2 linked regions of the Homo sapiens genome follow. The protein of the gene in region 1 interacts with the protein of each later gene in a pairwise test. Each region holds a gene or a part of one and is shown on either strand. Other genes may lie near its edges.

Evidence for each region. The genes of interacting proteins can lie anywhere in the genome.
Region 2: the proteins of GOLGA8F (region 1) and BAAT interact in binary tests that used the Homo sapiens proteins (3 or more experiments, as listed by UniProt).

The regions. Positions count from the first base shown.
Region 1 is NC_000015.10:28,381,589-28,389,064, reverse strand, and holds part of GOLGA8F (golgin subfamily A member 8F), read right to left. Parts: intron 6,676-7,476; coding exon 6,637-6,675; exon of another isoform or gene 6,364-6,636; coding exon 6,316-6,363; intron 6,228-6,315; coding exon 6,143-6,227; intron 6,048-6,142; coding exon 5,938-6,047; intron 4,919-5,937; coding exon 4,829-4,918; intron 4,723-4,828; coding exon 4,615-4,722; intron 4,420-4,614; coding exon 4,332-4,419; intron 3,941-4,331; coding exon 3,684-3,940; intron 3,417-3,683; coding exon 3,348-3,416; intron 1,977-3,347; coding exon 1,901-1,976; intron 1,464-1,900; coding exon 1,372-1,463; intron 798-1,371; coding exon 697-797; intron 615-696; coding exon 514-614; intron 425-513; coding exon 272-424; intron 187-271; coding exon 2-186; 3' UTR 1-1.
Region 2 is NC_000009.12:101,360,739-101,368,214, forward strand, and holds part of BAAT (bile acid-CoA:amino acid N-acyltransferase), read right to left. Parts: coding exon 7,382-7,476; intron 2,278-7,381; coding exon 1,690-2,277; 3' UTR 1-1,689. UniProt on the Homo sapiens protein: Catalyzes the amidation of bile acids (BAs) with the amino acids taurine and glycine. More than 95% of the BAs are N-acyl amidates with glycine and taurine.

The DNA of each region.
Region 1 (7,476 bases):
TTTATCTCCTTCTTCTTGGCAGCCAAGCCCAGCAAAAGAATGGCACACAGCAGTTGCTGCCCAAGCCTGGGTGCTCCTGGTGGTCCTGCACGATCGGCTGTGCAGTAGGGTTGTCGTGGGGAGAACCCTCCCTGGCCTCTCCTTGCACAGGCTCCACGCTGTCAGTGAGGCTCACCTCACAAAGATCTTTGGAGAGAGGGAGGCGGGGATCTGAGCTCAGTGAGAGCCCCCCTGCTCCTGCCTGCCCACCCCGCCTGAGGGCTCTACTCACCACCATGCTTGTGGGCAGCCCCAAGCTCCTGGGGGGCTGGGGCTCCTGGACTGGGCTCATGAGCAGGGTTCTGGGCAGTCACCAAGAATTTGCTGTGTCCCTTGTAGTCGCCACCAGCTGCAACACCATCTCCTGCAGCTCCAGCAGCTTCACCTGGAGGGAGGGGTGCTCAGCTGTCACGCTGCTGCCAGCGCTCACCGTCACAGCCACCCCCACCCCCGCAGAGATGTTGCACACTCTACCTTCATCTCCTCCCTGTCCAGGGCCAGCCTGATGGTGTCCTCCTCCCGGTGCTGCATCTTTGGCACTGCCCCCTGGCTTTGTTATAGGGTGATAAACTTTCCTGCGGGAGGACAGGGCTCAGACGCTGGGGCCCCTCCAACAGCCCTGCAGCTCCCCCTGCCATGCCCTGGCCTCCCACTCACTGATGGCATCTCTCTCTGTAGTACTGGAAGAATCCAAGTTCTTCTTTCTCCACCAGCTCACTCAGGTCTGCCTTCTCCTCCAGGTGGTCCATAAAGCCGCTCTGGAGCCAAAATAATGGGGTCACATCTCGCCAGCGACCTGCCCTCAGGTGGCATTTTCAAGTCATGGAGAAGGCGGAGGTGAGTTCCGGCATGGGCCAGCTTCTCCGTGACTTCCTGCAGGGCCCGGTGGGTCTCCCCACTCACAGACTCGCCCCCAGGCCCTGGGGCTCCAGGGCCTCTGGCTGCCTCTGGCTCCTTCTGGGCCGAGGCCACCGGGTGAGCCAGGCGCTGGCAGCACACCCTCTGCTCTTTCACCTGCTCTTGTAACTGTGCCTGCTTCTCCTGGGCACTAGCTCCAGCGGACTTGAAAAATGCCACCTGAGGGCAAGATGTGAGCATTCTTGCAGGGGCATACACAGAACAAATGGGGCAGAGAGGTGGAGCGCAGCCCCTTCCCTTGGGGCCCCAGAGACTGCACATGTTGGTCACAGGTGAAATGGTGTCTGACCACTGGCTCCCAGAAGGGGTGAGGGTCCAGAGAAATCAGAAGGCAGGGAAACGAAGAGCATAAAGGGGTCTTGGAGGGACCACAGAGGAAGGAGGCAAAATGGGTTCAGGTGGAGTCAGGCTCACCATGGCCTCCCTGCTCTCCAGGTCCTGTGGGATGCTAGGAATGGGCCGAGGTGCCTCCTCCCCCTCACTGTCCAGATGTCCTCCTCCATCTCCTGGGGGTGGGGGTGGTGGCCAGAGGGGTCCTCAGACAACTCAACAAGGGAAGTATTGTGGGCCCACCTCTGCCTCCACCCTCATTGTGTAACCCTGAGCCAGGCCCTCCCCAGAGAGGAATGAGCTGCTGTTATTTATTTTTACTTTGAAGAACCAAGATCTTGCTATACTGCCCAGGCACATTCCCACTACTGGTCGGTGCGGGAGTTCTGACCTGCTCCCTTTCTGACCTCGGCCAGTTCAGCCATCCTTAGGCAACTTGGTGGCCCCCCGCTCACAGGAGGTCACCATATTGATGCTGAACTTAGTGCAGGCACCCGGTTAGTATAATGACCAGCTGTTCTAAAGGTCTCTTCCAACTCCTCAATCCTATGCTGCTAGCAGTCCCCCCTTCCTCCTGGGGCTCTCTCCTCTTCCTCTGAGCGGTCTCCCGTACCTTCCCCAGGGAGAGCCATGAGGCTCAACTGGGCCGTTAGCTGCTGTTTCTGCTGGCTCGCAGCTTCCAGACGCTCCTAAGGGGCCAGGAAAGAGTGAGAAGGCACAGAGTTTGCCAGGTCGTCCCCCTCACAGCCCCATCCTCGGCAGCTCCCTCCCCTGGGTCTCCTGCAACTTTTGGCAGGCCATCTCGGCCACCGCTTTGCCCCAAGCTTCCTGCTGCTGCAACTGGTTCATTAGCTGGGTCTGCTGCAGTCACTGCCTGTACAGCGCCTCCTTCTCACAGGTCAGCTGCTGATAGGCGGCCACCTGCTGCTGATAGGTGGCCACGTACTGCTGCAGGTGACCCAGGTAATGGTCTGGCTGCTGCTGCAGACTCTGAGCCTCTTGGCTCTTCAGCTCCACCTGCAGGAAGACCCTGGGTGTGAGGGCACGTGGTGGCTGGTTTGCAGATTCTGGGCCCATTAATAGGGTAGCGAGGGCACTGTGGGGCTCTGTCGCCTGCCCAGGCCCCTGGCCCCTTACTTCAGGCCTAAGTGACTGCCTTGCTTTCCTAGAACCCCATGCCTCCTTCCCCAGCCTCAAATCTCATGTCCTCTTCCCACCATTTCAACTGTAGGCCACAGAATGGTAGAAAAGTATGGGAGCCAACCACCATCTGCTAAATGTGCTACAGGCCTAATGCTTCCCATGTATTATCTCATTTAATCCTCAGCACCTCTGTAAGGAAAATGCTAACTTCCTTTTGAAGTTAAAGAAACAGAGACTTAGAGATGCGAAGTACTTGAATGGTGACCAGTGGAACTGAGGCTGGAATCCAGTTTTAATCTAAGGAGTCTTTTTGTTTTGTTTTGAGACAGAGTGTCACTCTGTGGCCCAGGCAGGAGTGCAGTGGTGCAATCTCAGCTCACTGCAACCTCCACCTCCTGGGCTCAAGCAATTCTCGTGCCTCAGCCTCCTGAGTAGGTGGGATTACAGGCATGCGCCACCACCATGCCCCACTAATTTTTCTTTCTTTTTTTGTTTTTTGTTTTTGTAATTTTAGTAGAGATGAGGTTTTACCATGTTGGCCAGGCTGATCTCAAACTCCAAACCTCAAGTGATTCTCCTGCCTCAGCCTCCCAAAGTGTTGGCACTATAGGCGTAAGCCACCGCATCTGGCATAAGAAGACTGTTATACCACTCTGTCTCTTCCCCTGTGATTGGGGGGGCTCCATGTCTCTAGCTGGAATGATGATGTCCAGACCTGGGAGGAGCCCAGGGCTACCCACCTCTAAAATCAGAGGGCAGGAAGCAAGAAACAGCCACAGGACTGCCCTGGAGGGTGCTGGGGTCACCTGCCCCCGGGCTGGAGCTACCGCTGGACTGGCACCTCCCCTCCCCAGAGGCTGGTGCCCACCCACCTCCCAGACCTTCTTGGATGGGGTGGAGGTTACCGTCTCCTTCACCTTGCCTAGCTTCTCCTGCAGCTCCTTTACTTGCTGCTCCAACTGTAGTACGCTCTTGTTCTCATTGTTCTGGACAGAGAGAAGCAATCAGCAGCCACCCACTGCAGCTGGAGACCCCAGAACTTGGTGACTGCCTCCCATGGCACCGGGAAGGGTGGAGGCAGGTTAGAAAAATCATCCCCTGTCTCCCACAGCCACCAGAGCAGGGCTCTGGCTCACAGGTGCCTTTAGGAGTAACATTTCACTTGAGGGCTACACTGCCCCATTTTATAGGTGGGGAAACAAAGGCCTGGAGGGCTAGGGAGGAGGGCAGGCTCCCCAGCTGGGGCAACGCACCAGCTCCTTGAAGCTGTTCTGTGGCTCGGCCAGCTGCTGAAGCCTCTCCTCCTGCTCTGGAAGCCTCTCCTGCTGCTCCTGAAGCCTCTCCTCCTGCTCCCGAAGCCTCTCCTTTTGCCCCTCATTCAGGAGACTTATGCGCTGATTGTACTCCACCTGGGCCTGGAGCTCTCCTGCCACTCTCTCTAGTTCCTTCCTCAGGTGCTGCAGCTCCACCTCAGAGGGCACTGCTGGGGGCTCCGGGGGCAGAGGTTCAGCTGAGAAAGGAAGCAGACAATAAGAGCCTCTGGATTCCAAAAAAAAAAAAAAAAAAAGAAAAGAAAAGAAAAAACCCTCCTCTTGGCGCACAGCTCCTCTCCGGCTCCTCAAACTTAGCCTCACTGCTAATGATTCCTCGCACCCAGATGGTAGCCAGTCTTCCAAAGCACTTTCAGAGAAAGAGCACTGCGGGTGGCTGACAACGGGCCCTCTTTGCTGATGGGGACACTGAGGCTCATTGAGATGACAAGACTTGCCGTCTCCTGGCACAGACCTCTTTCCCTCTGCCTCAAAGCCCTTCCATCCACCCACCTCGCTGGGGCACTCCAAGCCACCCTCACAGCCCTCTGATGCCAGTCCTGCTGCCAGGTCACGCCAGCCCCATCTTACCCATCTGGTGTTTGAGTTTGGACAAGCTCCTCTCCAGCTTCTCTACCCGATATTTATCATGCTTCTTCTCCTTCTTCAACGAGCAAACCTGCCCAAAGCACAGGGGGAAAGGGCCCTGGAGAGAGGGGCTGGAGGCTGGACATGCTACCATCTCCCTCTCTGCCCCCACCTCCACAAAGCCCAGTCCCAGGACCACCTCTGGCTCTACTATTCCCATTTTACAGGTGCCCAGAAAGATCCAGTGACCTATCTAATGTGGGGGGGCTGAAGGGTCAGATCTCACCTCCTGCGACATTTTTCTCATCCTCTGCTGCCACCGGGCCCTCTCTCCTTTTAGATGTTCAGCATATTCATCCCTCTCTAGCTGGACTTCTTTAAGTGACTCCTTCAACTGCAAGAATGGGCACAGAAATTAGGAAGGGCTGTCACTGGTCCTCACCTGCTCCTGGTTACCTGGGGTCATCTTTCTTCCACATCCCTCCTTCTGAACACCTCACCTGTGTCAGCTGCGCTTTCAGCAGTGCCTGCTCCCGCATGGACTGCTCTAACTTCCACTCCATACGTGCTTTACTGCGGCTGGAGAACTGCTGAAGAGTGAGAAGTTTCAATCTGGTGAGGCCGGGCCATTCCACACAGTGCCCCTTAAAAGGGCCAGGGCTAGGCCCAATATACAACTCGGTCAGTAAAGATCAAGGCATTTCCAAGCCCGTGGTTTGGTTTTTAAAGAACTCAGTAAAGTTGGAAGGGACAGGGAAAGAGATCGAATTTATAGCTGGCTAACAGAGGCCCAGAGAGATCAGATAATATTGCTATTGTTATTACTGTTATTATTACCACTGTTTGAACTTTTATGGAGTGCTTCACCAGATACCATGCTAGCAATCCCATTTAATCCTCGCAACCACCATGGGAGACAGTTACTATGATGACCTCTATTGTGTAGATGAAAAAACATGGAGTATTTGAGGTTAAGTGCTTGCCTAAGATCACTTAGGCAGAGCTGGGATTTAAACACCCAGATCTATCCAATTCTCTAAGCCCATTTTTCTTGCTGGGGGTGGGGGCACAGCTAGGAAGGGGAAAATTAATCTTTTGTTCACTTTTTGAAAGGATAATACATTCACATAGTCCCAAACTCAGAAGGTACAGAAGGGAAGTATCTCCCAGCCACCCTGTTGCTCTCTCCTGAGTTTTTATGAACACTTGCAAACATATTTTATGTATATTATCATAATATGTACACACACACACACGTTTCCTCTCTCTACAGAAATGGTAACATACTAAAGGTACTCTTCTGTACCTTCACAGTACAAGTACCCAATACCCACTGAGGACTTGGCCAAGACCACAGCCAGGTAAAGGCATGGCAGGCACTTGGCCTCCAAGCTCTACGTCCTGTGCTCTCTCCCCAGAGTGCCCCCCAACTCACCCACAGCAGCTGACTCAGTCCCAAGCTGCCGCTAACAACCATACAAAAAAGCAGTGAGAAATGGCCATGCTGCCTTCTGGGCAGGACACTCCATCCTGCAGAAGGGACCTTTAGGCTCACTCCTCTGTCTGCGAAGCCAGGCTCCCAGGGGACGGGGCAGGTGGTTGGACTCACCCTCTCCGCCTTCTTCTTCTGTGTGGCGGTGACAGCAGAGAGAGCCCGCTCTAACTCTCCTTTACGCTGCAATGAATGTTGCAGACGGACGGCCAGATCCTTGGACTCTTCTGTAATGAGAGAGTTGAGATGGGGCCCAAAGGACTCCCCCTGAAGACCTGTCAAAGTGCCAGGTTGAAGGATGACAGGGTACCCAGATTCCCACCTTCAAAGTATCTGAGAGAACGTTTCGTGTGGTACAGGTCCGTATTTAGTTTCCCTTTCTGTATGTTCAATCTCTGGATTTGAACCTTTGGGAGAAAAGCCAAGCAAGTGCTGAAAGAGAAGGAAAGAAACATTCTCCGGAGGACAGGAGAAAACTGCACACCGTCCACTCACCTCTAGCTCCCTTTCGGCTTTCTGTTTCTCGTTGTTTGCTTTCTTTTCCTGTAGGAAGAGGAAGACAGAGATCTAACCAGGCAGAGGCAGAGATGGTACTGCAAGAGACATGTCCCCAGAATGCCACCACTGCCCCTGCCCCGGGACAGGCCCACCCATGGGACCGGGTTATCAGGGACCCTGTGGGGGATGGGGTGGACTCTGGGGGGTGAGCCTTCTTCCCCAGGCTGGGAGTGGGTGAGACGAGACTCGGGGCCTCTACATCTGAGTGTCCCCCAAACCGAGCAGTCATGTCGCGAGCAAACAAAGAAATCATGTTACTTCTTCCAGCTGATGTTCCACTTGTTTATTCTGTTGTTTCTGTGGGGAGAGTCACATTAAGGTGATGGAGGGTGGCCCCCTCAACTCTATTCCCCAGAGCAGGAAGTGGTAGGCAGGGGCCAGGAATGGATTTTAAAGGCAAAGTTCTCAGACCCAGTGGGAACTCGAACTGGTAAACTCTCCTCAAGCTCCCAAGGACAGAGGATTTGGGTCTTTGTTGGCTTTTGTCCACAGCCACAGAACTCAAGGTCTGAATCTGGAATCTCTTGACAGGACAGTAACATAAACCTCTAGAGATGGAGTTTGAGAAAGGCCCCCCCTTCTGCCAGCTTGTGATTTAGAAAAGTGCATTCATTCAATAAACATTTACTGAGCACGTACGGGCCAAGTACGGTTCTTCACAGAAGATTTAGGGCGGAAAAGGACAGACAGGAGCCTTTGGCCCTGAGGTTTCCATTCTAGGAGGCCTTTAAATCTCAGACTCGAGAGCTAACAGAGACCTTTGATACTCACTACTTCCTCTGGAAACATGAGCCCAAAAAGGAGAGGTGGCTTGTCCAGAATCAAAGAGCAAATTAGGGACTGAGTCATGGCAGAAATACGGGGCCCCTGACAACTAGTCAGGCTAGCACTTCCCCAAGAGGCAACAATCCCAGGGCGTGTGTAGCAAGGACTCGAGCAGGGGCGTCTGGAGAGGGGAGAGTCAGCAAACAGGGCAGCAAAAAAAGAGCCATGCTGCATGCTCCGGGGTCCCTCCAGGTGAGGCCTGGGCGCCCCAGCTCCCTATTCGCCCTTGGCACCAGGGGCCGCCGTCCCCTTTCTTCAGGGCCCCAAGGGGAA
Region 2 (7,476 bases), on another chromosome or scaffold:
GGATTACATTTCAGCATGAAATTTGGGCACAACAAATATCCAAACCATATCATCATCTCTAATCATGAATAAGTTAAAATGCCATCATTGTAGCTATGCAGCCAAATGCAAACAAACACTAAAAAAGCACTTGCTTATTCATACAGGAGTGAGATCATTTAGCTGTGACTTTTTACACTTGGAGAAAACATGTAAGAAAACATTTCTTGGTGCACAAGAAGGATAAAAATGCAAATGTATGGTATGTAAGATCATGTTAGCAGCCAGTGTTGGAGTAAGACATGGATCTTGACCCTATGGTTTTTGTGTAGACTGTTCCAATAAATCACAACCAGGAAGGCCAGCAAGTGTAGATGAGAGACAGGATACAGAATCCCTCATGATAAAGACTATGAGGAGAATGAAGTAGGAGAAGCTGATGAAAAGTGGGTGGATGATGGAGATCAGAATGATCCATCTCAATGAGATGAATTAGCAGATGTTTGTATGTCTCTAGATATTTAACTGACCCACTATATTCCTCAAGGATACTGCATTTGGACATAATACAAATTGGCAGTTTGGAATGTTGAACTTAAAGTCTTGCAAAATGTGGTACATGCTAGATGGTAGTTATGTTGCTATGAGGACTATATGATCAAAGCCTTATAGCAAAAAAAATTTTTTAATATTTGCAAAGGACTGTACAGCAAACAACCATGTGGTTGAATTACATGCAGTCCTCATATATTCAGTTGGTTAGCAAACTAAAGTATTTTTTATTTATGGGATGTACAGTAACTATTGGGTCTTACGGAAATATAGTACCTGTCCTTATAGAGCTCACATTCATGTGCTACTCTAACATGACTGAAGAAATTCATTATGGAAGTACAGTGATAGTTGACCCAATCACTCAGTTTATCAAACTCCCCAGGCTAGCCTGTACTAGTAGAGTTGTGTTTCTATTTTTATTTTTTACTTTTATTAATTTTATTTTTAATACAGATTTTCAGTAAGGGGCATTTTCAACCTAATTGGTTCTATTTTCTTGTATTTTCCATTTTAATTTGCTTCATAACTTAAACCAAGGCTCTTCCAGTCTTAGTTATTATGTCTCAGTTATGTGCCAATGGGCATGTTTTTAAGAACTGAAGAGGTAATTTATTGCAATGAACTAACTGACCTCCTCCATTCCTTCTTTCCTTTTTGACATGAATTTTACTACCCCACAAATGAAAAATGATGTTGCAAAGTTACTGTGGTGAAGTTGAAAAATATCACTAAAATGATTATAATTTAGTATTAATTTTCTCCTGCTGCTCTAATCTGATAAATTCTTACTATATAGTGTTTTCTGACATGGTATTTGGTTTTATATCTGTTACTTTGGTGCTATTCTTGTTTGCCTTTTCTTATTTTTGCCAGTGTACTATACCTCAGTCCTATTTAGAAGACCTGATGGAAAGAAAAGTCATGTAAATAATAAGTAAAATGATTTGTTTTATGATTTATTCACCATGTCCAGTTTGGTTAGCTTGTTATGCAGTATAAGTGAAATATCAGGTTTTTACCCTATGCTCTTTTTAATCATTAAAATTAATACAAAATGTGTGTGTGGCAGCTGGGGGAGACATTCCGCCATGAAAATTGAGAGAAGGTCCCGGTAAAGAGATTTGCTTCTTTATTTTCTAGGAATATCTAGTCTTCTTAGAGTTGACTGGTCACATCTGGAATGAGGTGCTTCCTGAGAAATCTCTGGATCTCCTTCCAAGCATGTTCCTGTGCAGCTGCGTGTGGGATCACCTCTCCTCCCCAGTGTAACCTCAAATCGTGGGTCGTTGAGGCACAGCACAGAGGAGAATAGGGAGGTTCTATCAGGTGGCCTGCCCCAGGGTAAGATAGCAGGGTCCAGTTGTTCTTCCCATGTCTCTTCAGCTGTCCTATGGCTTGTTCAGCGTGTGCTTTGCTGTTGATAGTCTTATCACCTTCTCCTACAATGAAGAGGAATTGCCCCTGGGCCTCTTCAATAGGAAACAAATATTGACTGGCCCCAACTTGAGTTGTCTCAAAAGTGCGATAGAGCTCTAGTAACCCCAAGGCATTGGTGGATATTAATTGTGCAGAATGGGGAAGGGGCTGATGGATCTGACCATGATATACCTGTGGAATGCCAAAAGGAAAGTTGGTCCCATTAATAAGTACCGTGGCTGTGACTTGCTTTAGGTAAATAGCCATAGATAGTCCAATCTGTACTCCTTGACATACAGAGACTACCCCAACGCCTGAGCCAAAGACCTGAAAAAAATAATAGAAATGAGAAATTATTCTAGCCTTCATTTAGGAAAACTCCACAATCTCAAACAACCAAAGAACTTCACTGGCTAATGAGAACAAAGCAAGTATTAATCCTACCCACATCCCTAGCTATAGAGTTCTGGAATATATAATATGTATTCAAAAGAAATACTCCAAAAATATGTCAAGCTTTACCGACTATATATTACGGATTCAGTATTGTGTTAGGTTCTGAGTTTAAAATGCCCTAAAGAAATGCAAATGTCGCAGGGAAAGTAAGAAATGGCACATGACTATTGTGAATAATGTGGGTCAGGGTATAGATGATTGGTACACTTTCCTCCCTTCAGAGGAAAGGGCACCTTGTAGGAAGAGACTGAGAAAGAAAGTGAGATCAGTAGGATAGAGTTGAACAGAGGATTCTAGATTTGCTTTGTTTTTTCCAAAAGTTTTCTCATTGTGGAGAAAAATGTCATAAAGGAGGCTTGGCTCAGCTTCCTCCCTCATTGTCAGTCATCAAATAAGCATCCTTAAATTATCTATCCTACGGCAAGCACTGGGAGTCACAGAGAGAAAAGGAACAATCTCTTGTCATTAAGGAACTCACTGCCAGATGAAGACACAGGAGGAAAAAAAAAAACACACCAGATGATTGGAGCATCATAAATTCTATGATATGAGAATGTATGTAGGCTAGACTGCCAACCCAGATTAGCAGGGAATAAAGGCAGGATCAAAGAAAGGCTCTCAGAGGAAATGGGCTACAAAACAAATGAGTCTTCGTATTAAAAAATGAAAGCCAAGCCTGGTTAACATAGTGAGACCCTATCTCTACAAAACTAAAAAATTAGTTGAATATGGCGGTGTGTGCCTGTAGGCCCAGCTACTCAGGTTGAGGTGGAAGGATCACTTGAGCCCAGGAGTTCAAGGCTTTAGTGAGCTATGATTGTGCTATTGTACCCCAGCCTGGGCAATAGAGTGAGACCCTGTCTCAAGAAATAAAAATTACAAGAAAGTCAACAAGAAGGAATGGTATTCTATGCTGAGTATAGCAGACTCTGTTAGTTGCCTACACAGGAGCCATTCTCCACAATTTCAAAGCTAATATGACCTTGATTTTGTGTGGCATAGCAATATATCCAGCCCCAAGGGATAAATTCTGATGGATCCTAATCTATTTCCCTTTCTCAGCCTCTCTTCCAAGGCCAACATATTCTACCTAAGGACTTTTTTTGCCCCCCGTGCAAACTGACACAGAATCATGAAGAGAAAGCCTATGTTTATGATCATTCTTTTCAGACTAGGATGCTGGCCTGTTGACTTAATTCCTGAAACTGCCAGAGTCATTTTGTGACCTTCAGAGTAAGGCTAGAAAATTGCAGAAATGTCAATCTAATCTCCTTGATTGAAAACTACACTGAGTTTCTAAGCCAAAGTTTGAACCACCTATCACCAAACCTGTTATGTAAGAGAATAAGATACCTTATGCTGATGTTTAAGCCACCATCAGCCACTTTTCTGAGAAATGTAGCCAAAACATTCCTAATGTATTCACCATAGGAGAAACTCATGCAAAAACTGAGAGGCAATGAAGAGCAAGGCATTTAGAGGAACCACAAGTCATTCTTCATTATTTTAATTTAGAGTATAAGGTGGGAAATAACATAATAAGTCTGAAACAGAAAACACCAACTTTATGGTGCATAGCTTTGAAAGATATATTAAGCATCTTCAGTTTTTTTCCTAACTAAGGAGGAAAATTAGGACAAATTTTAAGGATGGGCATAAGATAAGACTGAATAAGTATGCAGAAGTCAGATCATAGGAAGCTTTGTCTAACATGCTAGGAAGCCTGGCCTTTATCCTATAATAAATAGGGAGACTCTTAAGCAAGCGAGTAAAATAGTTGTGTTTACAACTCTGACTTGCATAAATGGAGGCAGAAAAGCCACAGATTAATGCACTGATAAAAGCAGAAAATTATACTGTCCTGAACTAAGGTAACAGCAGTAAAAATGAAAAGGAAACTACATGTTCATGAGTTATTTTTGAGTATTGAGTGTATTGCTCCCAGTTACCAATTTGGTTGGGAATTCTAAGGAGGAGTTAAAGAAAATTGTTGTGTCACAAAATAAAGCTCCGATTCTCCTTGAGCACTGGCTCCTGGCAAGGACAGAGTCCTAGAGAGAAGCATCACTTTTCTAAAACCTTTGTTGACTTCCTGTATTTATTTTAATTGATCTCCTATATTTTAAAGGCATTTTATAAACCAATGTTTGGGATATTTTCCCTACTACTTAGAAACACATGAATCAATATACAACTCATGCCAAGCTGATGAAAATGTGAGAAATTCTTAGGGTAAGAGGGAAAAAAAAAACTAAACAAATGGAATGAGTCATATATACTCTCTATTTCCTACCCTGTATATTTAACAGGGGTGGCTTGAATCAATTAAAAGTTCCTTTCAAGCTCTGAAATTCTGTATTTTTTTAATTTTAATTTTAATTTATTATTTTTTACTTTATTTTTATTTTTTGAGACTGAGTCTCATTCTGTCACCCAGGCTGGAGTGTGGTGGCTCAATCTCGGCTCACTGCAACCTCCGCCTCTCAGGTTCAAGCAATTCTCTGGCCTCAGCCTCCCGAGCTGGAACTACAGGCGCCCGCCACCACACCTGGCTAATTTTTGTATTTTTAGTAGAGTTGGGTTTTCTCCATGTTGGCCAGGCTGGTCTTGAACCCCTGATCTCAGGTGATCTGCCCACCTCGGCCTCCCAAAGTGCTGGGATTACAGGCATGAGCCACTGTGCCTGGCCTAATTTTTATTTTTAATTGACAAATAATAATTATACATATTTATGGTGCATAATGTGATATTTCAGTGCATATATACATGGTGGAATGAACAAATCAGGCTGATTAACATATCCATTACCTCACAAACTTACCATTTCTTTGGGGTAAGAACATTTAAAATCTAATCTTTTAGCAATTTGGAAATATACAATACATTATTATTAACTATAGTCACCATGCTGTGCAACAGATCACCAGATCTTAGTCTTCTTGTCTAACAGAAACTTTGTACCCTTTGACCTACCTTTCTCCCCCACCCCTCCCAATCCTATATCTTAATATATAAGATAGAGAGCGACAGTTATGTTAAGGAAAGATGGGAACTCAGAGTGGATTTGGCCATGAAAGATAAAGTAAAAGCAAGTATAACACGAAAGAACAAAAAAGCATGACTCATATCTGTGCAGGCTTTTTAATATGTTTCTGTCCCTTGCCAAAACAGTAACTCTTGTTACAACTTCTACCACAAAATTTGGGATCAGGAAATTATGAGTTCTTAGAAGTTACTTAAAATCAACACATAGAGAAATAAGACCTGCAAGAAAGATCTCTGTTCTATCATCCTGCAGAAGAGACAATGTGAAGTAGGTTTAATGGAATTTCTCAGAGTCTGGGGAAAAAAATCTGGTTTCCAGGCCTGGATTAATCATTAACTAGCTATCTATGTGACACTGGCAAGAACAGTGATGAAAAAGTCATGCAGCAAATATAAGGGGAACGAGGCAAAGACCGTGAAAAAAGAGAATCACATAACCTCTCCACTTCTCATCTAAGCCAAGAAGAAGGCTCACAATGATAATATTGACTGACATTTCGAGGGCAGTTCCATTATATGCATCAAAAATAGCCATTTAAAATGTTCACTACATCAGTAGATTGTCAGTAATTGTTGCTTATCTTATTTCTGCAAACCTGATTATATTTTGGTGATCCTTATATAAAAAAACATGTAGTATGGAGATTTAATTTTATTTCAATTCTTATTAAAAAAAAAAATAGAGGCCAAGGCAGGTGGATCACTTGAGGTCAGGAGTTGGAGACCAGCTTTCCCAATATGGCAAAACCCCGTCTCTACTAAAAATACAAAAATTAGCCAGGTATGGTGGCACGCGCCTATAGTCCCAGCTACTCAGGAGGCTAAGGTAGGAAAATTGCTTGAACCTGGGAGGTGGAGGTTGCAGTGAGCTGAGATTGTGCCACTGCCTCTAGCCTAGGTGACAGAGCGAGACTCTGTCAAAAAAAGAAAAAAAAAAAAAAAAAAGGAAAGGAAAGAAAAAATATTGGGCAATTAACAAGGTTTAATAAACTCCAACTCTATCCCATATCATAGTAGCAAAGCACATGTTTTAAAATTTTAAAAGGCATATGGATTGGAAAGCACTAATAGTATTATGTTTAAGGGCTCATGAGTAACTAAAAATTCAGACTCATTCTTCAAAGAAATACAGATTATCTGTCCAGTTAAGTATAGTGATGAGAAAAATGATAGCTAGTTAATAATTAGAGCTATAAGATAAGGCTGAAGCAGTATGTAGAAGTCAGATCACAGAAAGTTTTGTCTAACATTTGTTCATCTTTGAGTGCTTAGTATTGCCAGGTTCTATGATAAGCATTTTGCATGCATTATCCTTTTTTTTTTTTTGCTTTGTCACCCAGGCTGGAGTACAGTGGCAGGAACATGGCTCACCGCAGTCTCAACCTCCCAGGCTCAAGCGATCTTTCCTCCTCAGCCCCTGCTAAGTAAGTGGGACTACAGGTGCCTGCTACCACACCCAGCTATTTTTTTAGTATTTATAGAGAAAGAGTTTGGCTATGTTGCCCAGGCTGGTCTTGAACTGTCGGCCTCTATTAATCCTCCCATCTTGGCCTCCCAGAGTGCTAGAATTACAGGCTTGAGCCATCACACCCAGCCAGTCCCTTTTTAAAAAATAACCATAATATCCTATGACTTCTCTTAACTTCCAAGTACGATTCTCAGTGAACTTGAAATTCTATTCATGCCCATGTTATTTATAATTCACATGATTTATTTCTCATCCAGTGTCTTTTGCTCAGAAAGACAAAATGCATAGGAAGTTAGCCTGTGCACATTGTAGTATCAAAAGGCACTGGCTTCTGGCCAAGTGTCAGATCATGCCACTGCACTCCAGCCTGGGTGACGGAGCAAGACCCTGTCTTTTAACAAAAACAAAAACAGAAACAAAAAAACCCCAGGGACTCAAACCTACTGAAAAGACAAAAATTACCTTTGGATGTCTCAGGAGAAAGTTGGCAGCCTCCTCAAAATATTCCAAATCTGTTACTTCTGGTTTGCGGGGCAGGTCTTCATAGTTATGGTAAG